Regions from separate parts of the Homo sapiens genome. Here region 1 is linked to region 2. Evidence: fine-mapped expression QTL. Tissue or cell type: testis. Region 2 holds a variant in brackets; the other region holds the start of a gene. All regions are shown on one strand. Distances are from middle to middle.

The links. PIP is the estimated chance that this variant, and not a neighbour inherited with it, causes the effect. A credible set is the group of variants that fine-mapping cannot tell apart.
Region 1: POU6F2 starts here. The variant in region 2 is the best candidate, but not a certain one, in a credible set for the expression of POU6F2 in testis (GTEx, PIP 0.64).

The regions. Positions count from the first base shown.
Region 1 is chr7:38,975,639-38,981,025 of GRCh38, forward strand. It overlaps POU6F2 (POU class 6 homeobox 2), which reads left to right and starts at 2,271. Exons shown (of 10, transcript NM_001370959.1): 1 at 2,271-2,420. The coding sequence starts at 2,316. It overlaps POU6F2-AS2 (POU6F2 antisense RNA 2), which reads right to left. Exons shown (of 7, transcript NR_138047.1): 7 at 4,257-5,387.
Region 2 is chr7:39,291,185-39,296,571 of GRCh38, forward strand. The region is part of intron 4 of POU6F2 (POU class 6 homeobox 2); the gene reads left to right. Among named protein-coding and RNA genes, the nearest start is that of SNORA20B, 35 kb to the right of the region's middle. The variant G/C (reference allele first, on the strand shown) is at 2,416.

The sequences.
Region 1 (5,387 bases), 320 kb before region 2:
TCACATGTAACATACTGTGAAGTGTCTGACACAGTGCCTGGCTCAGCCTCCCATCAACGCTGGCTAGTAATAATTATAATTCATACAGGCCAGATGGTCATGTAAACAACTGGAATATAAGCAAAGAGTGTTGTCCCTACGCCAATCGGAACCACCATAATTTGTGGGACAGAGCTTCAAAGGAGGTCTTCGGCCTCATACTGCAGCTTGGCCAGCCTCTCCCACCCACCTCCACCCACACCCCCAGCCCCCAGCCCCATAGGAAGGCGCTTAAGAAGCTTAGATCCCAGGGGAAGTTGAGCCTCCGATCGGGTGGCAGCGCGTGGGGAACCCAGGCTGCACTACAGAGGACGCAGGACGCCAAAACCACCCCGGGGCTCACGCCATCCGCGCACCGGCTCTGCTGCCTAAGTCCGAGGACGCAGGCGGAGGGCGCGGGGCTCCCGGGCGCCCAGGAGGGCGGTGCCGCCGGGGTGCGCTCCAGGCTTGGCTGCAAACCCCCCAAGAATTAGAAAGCGGGGGCGGCTGCTCAGCGGCTGCTGCGGCCTGGGACTGCAGCTCGCCCCTCCTCCGCAACTTCCCACTGGTCCCGTCACCTGGCTTTCTGTCTAGTGTCCGCCCAGGCGGGGTCCCAAGAAGGCGATGCCAGGAGCAGTCGCGCCCCCTGCCCTCTGTGAGCCCGCAGGTTTCGGGCAAGTTTGGCTCAGTCCTTGTCGATGCTCCAGGCTCGGCTTCCCTGGCCTCCCCTTCCCTGGCCAAAGGAGATGATGGGAAGCCTGAGGTTCTGATCTGGGATAACTGCAGAAACCCCCGGGTAGGACTTCAGCGCAGACGGGACATTTAATGATGTTGAGAAGGGCCTTTCCTCAGTTAGCCCTCAGCTCCCAGGAGGGCTACCCAGTTGGTGCACGGTCTCATTTTATTTGGGGATGCTGATTTAACTGTGTGTGTGTCTGTGTCTGTGTGTGTGTGTTTGTGTGTGTGTGCGCGCGCGCTTCGGTCCTTCATTCTTTGCTCCTAAAGATTTCTTTAACAATGTTGAAAATTGTTTTGTTTTTTTTTTCTTACTTGAAGTTCCTTTTGATTAATTTTCAAGCCGTGGGTATTATGCAATAATATACATAATAGTATATATTCTGTATTAAATATTTCTCATTGCTACCCGACCTGTCATCAGTTTAGAGCCTTGAAAAAAATCTCCATTTTAATATTAACACAAGGTTTTCCCATAAATTTGTTTTGAAAAGTTAGGGAGAGTATACTAACTAATGAACTTCAGTTAAAAAGTAGGCAAATGAAAAAAAAAAAGAAAAAAAGTAGGCAAATGCGAATGTTCTTCACTGCCACAAAGCCACCAAGTTAACGGATGGTGTTTATGGGTTTGGGTTTTTGGAGAGCAACTTTACAATACCTGTAGGATTGTCTTGAAAGTCAGGTTCCGATCTTTAGCCTAAGAAGGTTAAAAAGTTGGTAAGTTATATTCTTTTCACCCTTAACAATAACTGACCCATAATGCATTAGCAATCTGTCCCTAGATTGTGAGGAATCAGATAGTTAAAATTAAATTTAGAAAGTTAAAATACTTGTCATCACATTAAAAACACATTACATCAGTTTAGATGAGCTGCAAGTAAATCATCCCTTACCTTTCAGAAGATAAAAAGTTTAGTGACTGCTATTTACACACTTTGAATATTTTATATTACAGTGGTCATCATCATTTACACGGATTATTTTCTATGTCCACTTCCAATTCACAAATATCAGGGTGTTTGTTATGTAGCAGTTCACATTTCAAGCTTCTCTGAAAAGGTGTCCTTATATAAAACAACAGAGATAACTGCATATTATCAAAAGGTCATTTAGAGATTTTAAAAATAAAATCATTAGGGACCCCTTAAGAAAAGTAGAGCAATGAACTGTAATTTTAAAAATGTATATAATAGCACAAAAATCAAAGTCTTAATGGACACTCATTTGAGATAGTTCATTTTGTTTTTGTTTTGTTTTAAACATAGATTTCTAGAGCATTAAAAACAATCCTCATAGGTTTGTTAAACCTTTAGCGGAAGATTACAGCCCATGTTTTTGTCTTTGGTGAATAGCTGTTTGTCTCACTTTATTTACTTGGTATTGGATATTTGTCAATGTCATTTCATATCTACAGAAAATTCTTACGCTCTGTGGAGGTAGTGAATGTGTGTGTGCGTGTCTGCCGGAGGTCACATGACGGTTTCATTCTATTTGGTGGAGCAGCTTGACTTTTTTTCCCCTTGCTTTTGGTGATGGTTGTGAGTGCAGAAGTTGATTGACAGATGCATGCCAGAAACCCCCATTCTCCTTTTCAAAGACAACATATGATGGATTGCTATCTCTCAGCGCAGCAGGACACGGGGACCATGCAAGCTGTAATTGGTCAGGTATGGAGTCAGCCATTTCTCAACTCCCCTTTTTTCCACAAGGGTCTCACCATATGATTCACATAATTCATATTTACAGTACCATCTTTCTATCTGTATCTTCAGCTACCTGCCAGTGTAGTGCTGAAAGTGCGAAAGGCAAAAGGCACCCATTAAATCTGACCAGGGAAACCTCAGCTTAAAACTTCAATGCGATCCTTTTAAACAAAAACTAAAACAACAACAAAAACACTGGAGAATAAATCTAATTTATAATTTGGTCTGAATGTTTCTTAAAAATCTATTTTAGAAATTTGCTTTCTTTTTGGATTTTGATCTCTGAAAGAAAGTGCGAGAAGAGAATCAAGTGTGGTTTCCTAGGTAGTAGTTAATATTTTTCTAATGCTGTTCAATATTTTTATTTTGACTGTGCTCTCTCCTTCTCTCTTTCTCTCCCTCTCTCCCTTTCTCCATATGGGAAATATAAATATATAAATACATGTGCCTTGACTTCTAACCCAGATAATGTGTGATTGAGCCCGGTAAATGTAGTAGTAGTCTTGGCTGCTGCAGAAGGGCAGGCTGCAAATTAAACACTGTCACAATCTTGAAAGGTCCAGGTGGTCTGCTCGCGCTTCCTAATGCAATCCAGCACAGCAGCTTTAATAAACAGCTCCATTTAGTGCCTCCTCCTTGTATCTAGGGAGGTGAGCTGGTCTGGGGCTGCTGTGATGAAATGCCAGAAGAATATCTCTCAGAGGCCTCACAAGCTGATTTTTAGAGCTTTCCCGCTCTGTCGTCTTTGTCTTCCAAATGGGTCAGTGAATCTTGCTCTTTCTGTTTGGTGCTTTCCGTGAAGTCAGTAGTTTATGTTTGTGTTAAAATGTTTGCGTTGTAAGCTAAATCAGAAAACGAAAAGGATCATTGTATTTTCATTTGCCTTCAGATAACTAAAGTGGTGGAAGGAAGGATAGTACCCTCCTGCAAAGGGAGGGTGATTTTTCTGACTATGATGGGGGTGGGGTAAGGAAAAAGGAAATATACATGGTTTCTTTTCTTTTTTGTAATGTATTTTTGACTAAATTTTTCTAAGTTATCTATGTTTACTTATGGATTGTTAACTCATAAACCAGACTATGGTCACGAATATTTATAAACTCCTAAAAGTTTTTTTTTTTGTACACTTTCCAATCAAGACAAGCTGGCAAGGCAATGACATAAAATTTGTTTGCTTTATGTTAATAGCATGGTGGAAAATATATCATCTTATTCTGTTTTCAACAAAATTATAGAAAAGCACTTCAGGGTTCTGAAAGCACATGGTTTATTAATACCAGCATGCTTGCTTCATAATGTATTTTTAGATGGAAAATGTCAAATACATAATACCATGTTTTCACAGGCTCACACTATTTTAAAAGAAGTAGATATTTGCTTCGACAGAGAAATATTTTTTAAAACTTTCAAGTTAATTTTTGTTCTATAAGCATATATAAAGTGAAGTCTCTAGGCAGGAGAAAATATATAAACTGATTTTATATACTCTTAATACCTGTTTCAATGTAAGTACTCACTGACGAGCAAATATATCAAATATAGCTAAAATAATTGTGGTGTAGGGAATGAAATAAATATCTGTTACAATAGATGACTTTTGCATATTGAAATAAAACTTGAGCCCCTGATCACTGTCTTGTCCTGTTTAATAAAACTTTTCTTAGGTTGCAGGTCCTGTCTTCTGTATGGCATAGTTATGGTTCTTAATACCGTGCAGAATTACTGTACTTCAATCTCTAATAAGAATAGGATTTCCTTTTTCTATATATTTCTGGTGAAAAAATCAGGAAAGTCACTTGTAGTTTGTTATTCAGTATTGTTTATTGGAAATCAATTGTAAAGGCATATACTTTTTAAAGGCTCAGGTATATACTTAAAAAAATGAATCAGGACATATTTTTACAGATAGTAGGCTTAACTTCTAATTTGTCAGGATTTAAAATTAGTTATTATTACATAGCTCTGTATTTTGTATGTACTCTTTAGTATAATTGTTAAAGGTTCCACATGTCTAAGAACTCTACAGGTTAATGACTTCTTATGAATACATTGTAAATAGTTGCATCAAAGTAGTCACATGCTTTCTGAAGGTGTTATTTCTCATAATTTGTTAAAAACGCCTCAAAATGCCAAGTCAGTAAATTACAAAAGCAATTGTGCTGAAGGTTGTAAACATTTCTGTGCTAAAATGTACAAACTAGAATGCTGATTTTTTATTTGAAATTGAAACAGTAAGTATTTAAAAGGAAAGAAGAATAGAATATTGTCCTATATGTATACCATAAAAGTCAGAAAGTCTATATTGAAACCATATCTAGAAATATAAAAAAGAAAGGTGGTATACATATTTGAAGTGGATTCATTTCAATAGTTACAGCACAGATAAGTGTATTTACTCAAATGATTACTTCTAACAATAGGGAAAAGAATGTGAAAATAATTTTTATTGCTCTGCTGTCACTCAAAACCAGAAAGGGATGGTTTATTTTTTAGCTCTTGTCTTAAATATCGTCTTATATCTACTCAGCAGGTGTGAACAAGCCCATTTAATAATGCAAATGTTTGTGTTTGTTTCTGCTCAAATACGTTTTGGAATAATTATTATTTTTGTCTTTTTTTTTTCCTGTTCTGAGTGCTGTTCCTAGATGGCTTTGGGTTGGAGGAGCAAATAACCAGTTTTCAGTCAGAATATTGAAAGATTCCCATGAAGTATGAGCTTTAGGTTTTTTCATTCACTCCTAGGATGAAATATCCACAGTTGCTTCCACTGTAGGGAAGAGTAGACTTTTCTGTTTCTGGCCATGATCCAGCTCAGGACACAGCGCTGGCTTCACAGAGTAGAAATTGCTCATATATGCCTTTCCCCTAGGATTTCTCCTCCCCCAAGCAAGCAATTAAGCAGTCTAGTACTTGGAAGAACAAACTCCCTGC
Region 2 (5,387 bases):
ATTCCCATCTAATCACCACTGTCTTTCATTTTAGAATAATTAAACATGAGCTAATTAAATGAGTCTTTTGAAAGTGAGATTATTTGATAGCATTAACCTACATTTGACCTGCTGAGGATGGCACATTAGATGCCAATGCATTATTTCAGGTTTTGCATTATGTTGTTGTGACCTGCTATAATTATAAGAGGAAAATTTTTCTCTTTATTTATGACACATAATTTTAGATGGCTTCCAGATATTACATCTCATCTTGTTTTGCTCTTTATGAGATGCAAAGATATTGCCACCATCCAATTACACTGGATCACAAGCTTTAGACCGGCTATGATTTAATTACATTTTTGTTCATTCAAACATTTATACCTCGTGTGTGTTTCCAAATCATTCTCACTCTAGTGGCAATTTCCCAACGTGGCTGCAGGAGAAAATGGCCTTTGAAACAGTGCTCTCTCTGCAGTGCTTTAGAGAGAGAGGCAGCACATGAAGAAGAACCTCAGAAGATGAGGGCTAGGCTTGAAGCACGGTTTCATTAATACCGGATGGCAGAAAAGGAGCCAAGTCCCAGATAATGAGGAAGGAGTTGCAATTTTTTTTAAAGCTATCTGGTGACAGGGAAAACAAAAATGACATTCAGCTGACGAATGAGCGGAGTTTGACCTAGCCTTTTGACCCTTGACAATCAATCTTACCTGCTACTTCATAAAGAATTATAGCTCTGCCACTCACATTTGACTCTGTATTTTTACTATTCCCTTTACCTTTTTTTTTTTTTTTAATACATGGTCCAAGAAGATAAATGTTTATGTTGGATATAGCAGAGAGGAGGAAATATGGGATACTCAGAAGGGGGAAAAAAACTGAGAAGGAGAGGAGAGAGCAACAAGACCAACAGCCATAAAATGGTTTATACATGCAATTCAGAATTGTCAGGGATATTTTTTATGTGGCTGACCAAAATAGCAACTGGAAATAACTGATGACCCTACACACCTTCCACCCGGCGCCGGGCTAGATGTGAAACCTATAAGAGTGGGGGTGAGTCCCGAGCTCATCTTCCTGTCTGCCTCTCTGCTCCCCACCTCCACCCTCTCTAAAATGCATCCAGTGAATTTTGATGAATCCATTCCCCGTCCACGGGCTCTGATTACCATGTTCATTGTGAAGGGTTTTGGTGCCATCATTATGGGAAAGAAAGGGCAGGGAGTCCTGGCCACTGAGCTGTTTTCATTATCTGTTCAAGGCACCAATGCAAGCACTAAACAGTTTGTGCTCGGCCCATCTTTGTGTCCACCAACAGAGCGTAAATCAACAGGGGTGAAAAGTAGCTCACTGGGGAGCGAGAGGAAACACCTTAGGAATAAGAGATAAGGTCTTCGTTGGCATTTGGGATGCATTGTTTTTATATATAATTTGATGCGGTTTGTCTCAAGACACTAAAACTGAGGCTAGTCAGCAAGAGCAACTTTATGGAGCTTGCCCTGTACATAAGCTGACCATGGGGAGTTTTTCTTGCCTTTATAGAGTCGAGAATCTTTTCATGACTGTACTGGAGACTTCAGCAAAAACTCAGTCTCATAGAAGCGGAATGCAATTTTTGACCATTCAATCCATCCTGGATCACTGGGAACGTTAAGCTGTTTTCCTCATCTAGCCTCAAAGAAGATAATTGGGTTGGGGGGCTGCAGGGATGGCTGGGGTCTTGCAGTGGCTCTCAAAACCAAAAAAGAAAACATCAGAGTAGGCTGTGCGCAAATGAGCCGTTTCGTACCTCCCTTCCAAACCCCGAATCTTGCTTGGGCTCTGGCCGCCTCTGTCTTACCAAAAAGAGAAAGCATCCAGGCAAATAAAAAGAACCTAGTGATTGCGTGAAAAGCCACCAATCTAGCTCTGACACCTTTCTCGGTAAGCAGGGATTACACTTTGCTGTTAGCCGCTTCACAAAGCCAGCTGTGCGCCTGCCTCTGCCCGGCCCCGACGGTGCCAGGCTCCTCTCTGCTGCGGGTCAGCTGGCTTCTGGGGGGCCACCCTCCCTCTCCTTGGCATGGAATTCGTTACTTCCAGAATTACAAGGCTGACAAGCTGTTTATGAGGTGTTTCCGGGCTGTGTGTTCATAAAGAATCTCCCCTCAAAATAGGGCGAGCTCGTTAATGGAGGAAGTGAGGTCAGTGTGCTTCTGACAATCCTAACAAGATGACAGAATTTATGAAGCGCTGCGGTAGAAAGATGTAGTTATCTGCAGTCTATTCATATAATAAGGCCGCTTGGGGCCCGTCGTTACTCCCCTTGAATTTATTTTCCTTTCTTCATTCCTTTTTGTTGTCCGGCTCTTCCTTTGGCTTTCCTTTCGGATCTACCTAGAACCATTATCGCTTCAGACCACGTGATAGCCGAGGGAAGCAGGCCCACTTCCT[G/C]TTAAGGATGGGTGGCCCGTTCACTGGACTGTGTGTGAACCCCGGTGACAAGGGAGGGTGGAGTGGGCCAAGTCTTTGGGTCAGCTTTGCATAAAACCTAAATGTGGTACCAAATCAGCAGCACCTGAAGACCGAGTTCACATTTTAACTCAACCCAAAAAAGGAAACCCGTGACTGTTTTTAAAGTCCAACTCTTTCTCATCCCAATGAACGAGGACATCTCTTTTTCTACAACCCTGTGAGGTGAGGTGAAATTGCACTGTCCCTGGGGAAACTGAGAGGCATGAAACCATCCTGGCCTGAGTGATCAGCGAAGACTGGATGGGGAGGTCCAGCTTGGTCTGCACAAGACTGGAGCAAAGGATGAAAAACTTTGAAAGGGAAAAAGGAAAAAAAGTAAGTTAAACCCTTTTGGTATTAAAATTGAGAGGCAATTTGTTAATAGCATTTATTAGTTGTAAAAACTAATAACCAGTTAAGTTGATTAGTAAAAGGAAATAAAGTAGTGCCTGTATTCAAACTATGAGAATCAGGTCTAGTGAGATCATTTCACTGTGGGAGAAAGGTCCCTTCAGAAACCTGAAACCATGATGGCAACAGCTGTCTCTATTTTTTACTCTGACTTGATGTTTCTGGTTAGCCAGAGGAATTAGAAGTAGGTTTTTCCAGCCAATTTGTTAACAAGATGCATTCATTTGTCTAACAATAGTATTAGGTTGGCGCAAAAGTAATTGCGGTTTTTGCCATCAAAAAGTGATGGCAAAAAGCGATGGCAAAAACCACAATTACTTTTGCGCCAACCTAATACTACACAATCCACTGGGGAGAAGGAAAAATAAAAAGAGTTACTTTGGATAAGCAAAACAAAAACATGCTACTGTTTCCTCTGCCTATCTAGACTGAAAGAGCTGTGAAGTAGCAAAAGAGCCAAACTGTGTGTAAGTACAAAACAAAATTTATCTCAGTTGATGTTTTTATAAAACAGAGTCCATCTTACCTTTGAATTTTATGGACCAAAATGTTGTTTCACTAGTTGCTGTACCATTGAAGTCCACCAAATGCACCCTGATTCATTCTAGAGCTCAAGAAAGGGATGGGCCAGTCTTGGTTAAGCCAGATCACCAAGAGATGGCAGGACCTGTGCCACTCCCAGCAGGGGTGGCTAATGTTTATCCAGCCTGATGGGTGTAGGGTGGCTGGGCCATTCCACCTCCCACCTCAAGATTGACTTGTATTTGACCCCAGGGAAGACCTCTTATGGGATGCTTGCTGGACTGAGCCCACAACATGAGAACATTTCAGAGTCAGGCCTGGGACTTATGTTGAAAGACACTCTGCATTGAAATCAGGGGCGGGTCCTGGGGGAATGATCATTTCATTTGGCGAATGAAACAGGAATTCCACAATACTTCATGGATTCAGAGAAACAGATTATGAATAGATTCTCATTTTTCGGTCATGCCATGAACTACTCTAGGGTTAAAAAATTATATTTCTTAGTTTGCATTCTGGTAGTCCTAAGCAAGATTGTTTTAAATGCTTGCTTGCTTGCTTTTTTTTTTTTCAAAATATTTAGTCCAAATTGTCTTTTCCACAGTTATCAGAGTCCTAAAATGAAAACCTAGGGGGTATGCGTGATTGAGTTCTGTAAGCAACACACGAAAATCAGTCTAACTGCTTTCTTGGGACTCATGGGAGAATTGTGACGTGACAATAAGAAGTTGGATATGGGGAGGCCCAGTGCGGTGGCTCACGCCTGTAATCCCAGTACTTTGATAGGCCGAGGCGGGCAGATCACTTGAGGTCAGGAGTTTGAGACCAGCCTGGCCAACATGGTGAAACCCAGTCTCTACTAAAAATACAAAAATTAGCCTGGCGTGATGGCACATGCCTATAATCCCAGCTACTGGGGAGGCTGAGGCAGGAGAATCGCTTGAACCTGGGAGGTGGAGGTTGCAGTGAGCCAAGATTGCCCCATTACACTCCAGCCTAGGAGAAGAAGTGAGACTCCGTCTCCAAAAAAGAAGTTGGATATGGGAAAGAAGAGTGGCAGCTCAAACCTAGTATTTAGATAGAGTAGTCCTGTGTGTTGTTATATCTTGATATCAAGAAGGCAATGCTACTTAAAATGATTTCTACAAACTTCATAGACAATTGTCTAAAATTCATCCACTAGAAATTTCTTCCAATATATAATTAAACATATTCTTTCAAAACACAAGTAACTTGAGAGAATTAACCCAGTTTTATTTCATATCAACAACATGTACCAGACACTAGACTAGACCTGAGGAATCTTGGTACCTGCCTCTGTAAAGCTGCATTTCCCTGTTATCAGCCCTTCACACTTTAGCAGAAATTAATGAGGAGCTAGTGCTGTTATCAGACCTTTGCACCCTAATGGGAGTGCATTTATCACATAAATGTCATCTGTAATAGCTTTATGAGAGCAAAGTCACATCATAGATTTAAGGAAATTGAAACTTAGAGATATCTATTAAGCTTATAGTATTCTAGTTAATAATTTCAGAGTGGAGCCCAGTCTTCCTACATAGATTCCTGCTGTACATTCTCTGGGTTTTTATCTTTTGTGAGAACAAGAGAAAATGGAAGAGTTATTAGATGCTCATTAATTACAGAAACTCTAAAATTAATTATTTATGAGAACTCTAAAACTAATTAATCTGTTTTCCCTACCAAACAAATTTTAAATCTGAATTTTTGCCTTCCCTACTAAGTATCATTGAGAACAAGATACAATATCTTAGTCTAATTGTAGCCCTAATACTCACATTTACCATGTATAGCATTTCAATAAGCTACCATCCCTTCTCCTCTTCCTCTCCTCACATCCAATCTGTTTTCCACGCTGCAACCAGCGTGATCTTCTCAAAATGCAAATTTTAGCATTTTGTACCCTTGTAGCTCTTGGGATAAAAGCCAAAATCCCTAAACACAGCCTCAAGGCCTCC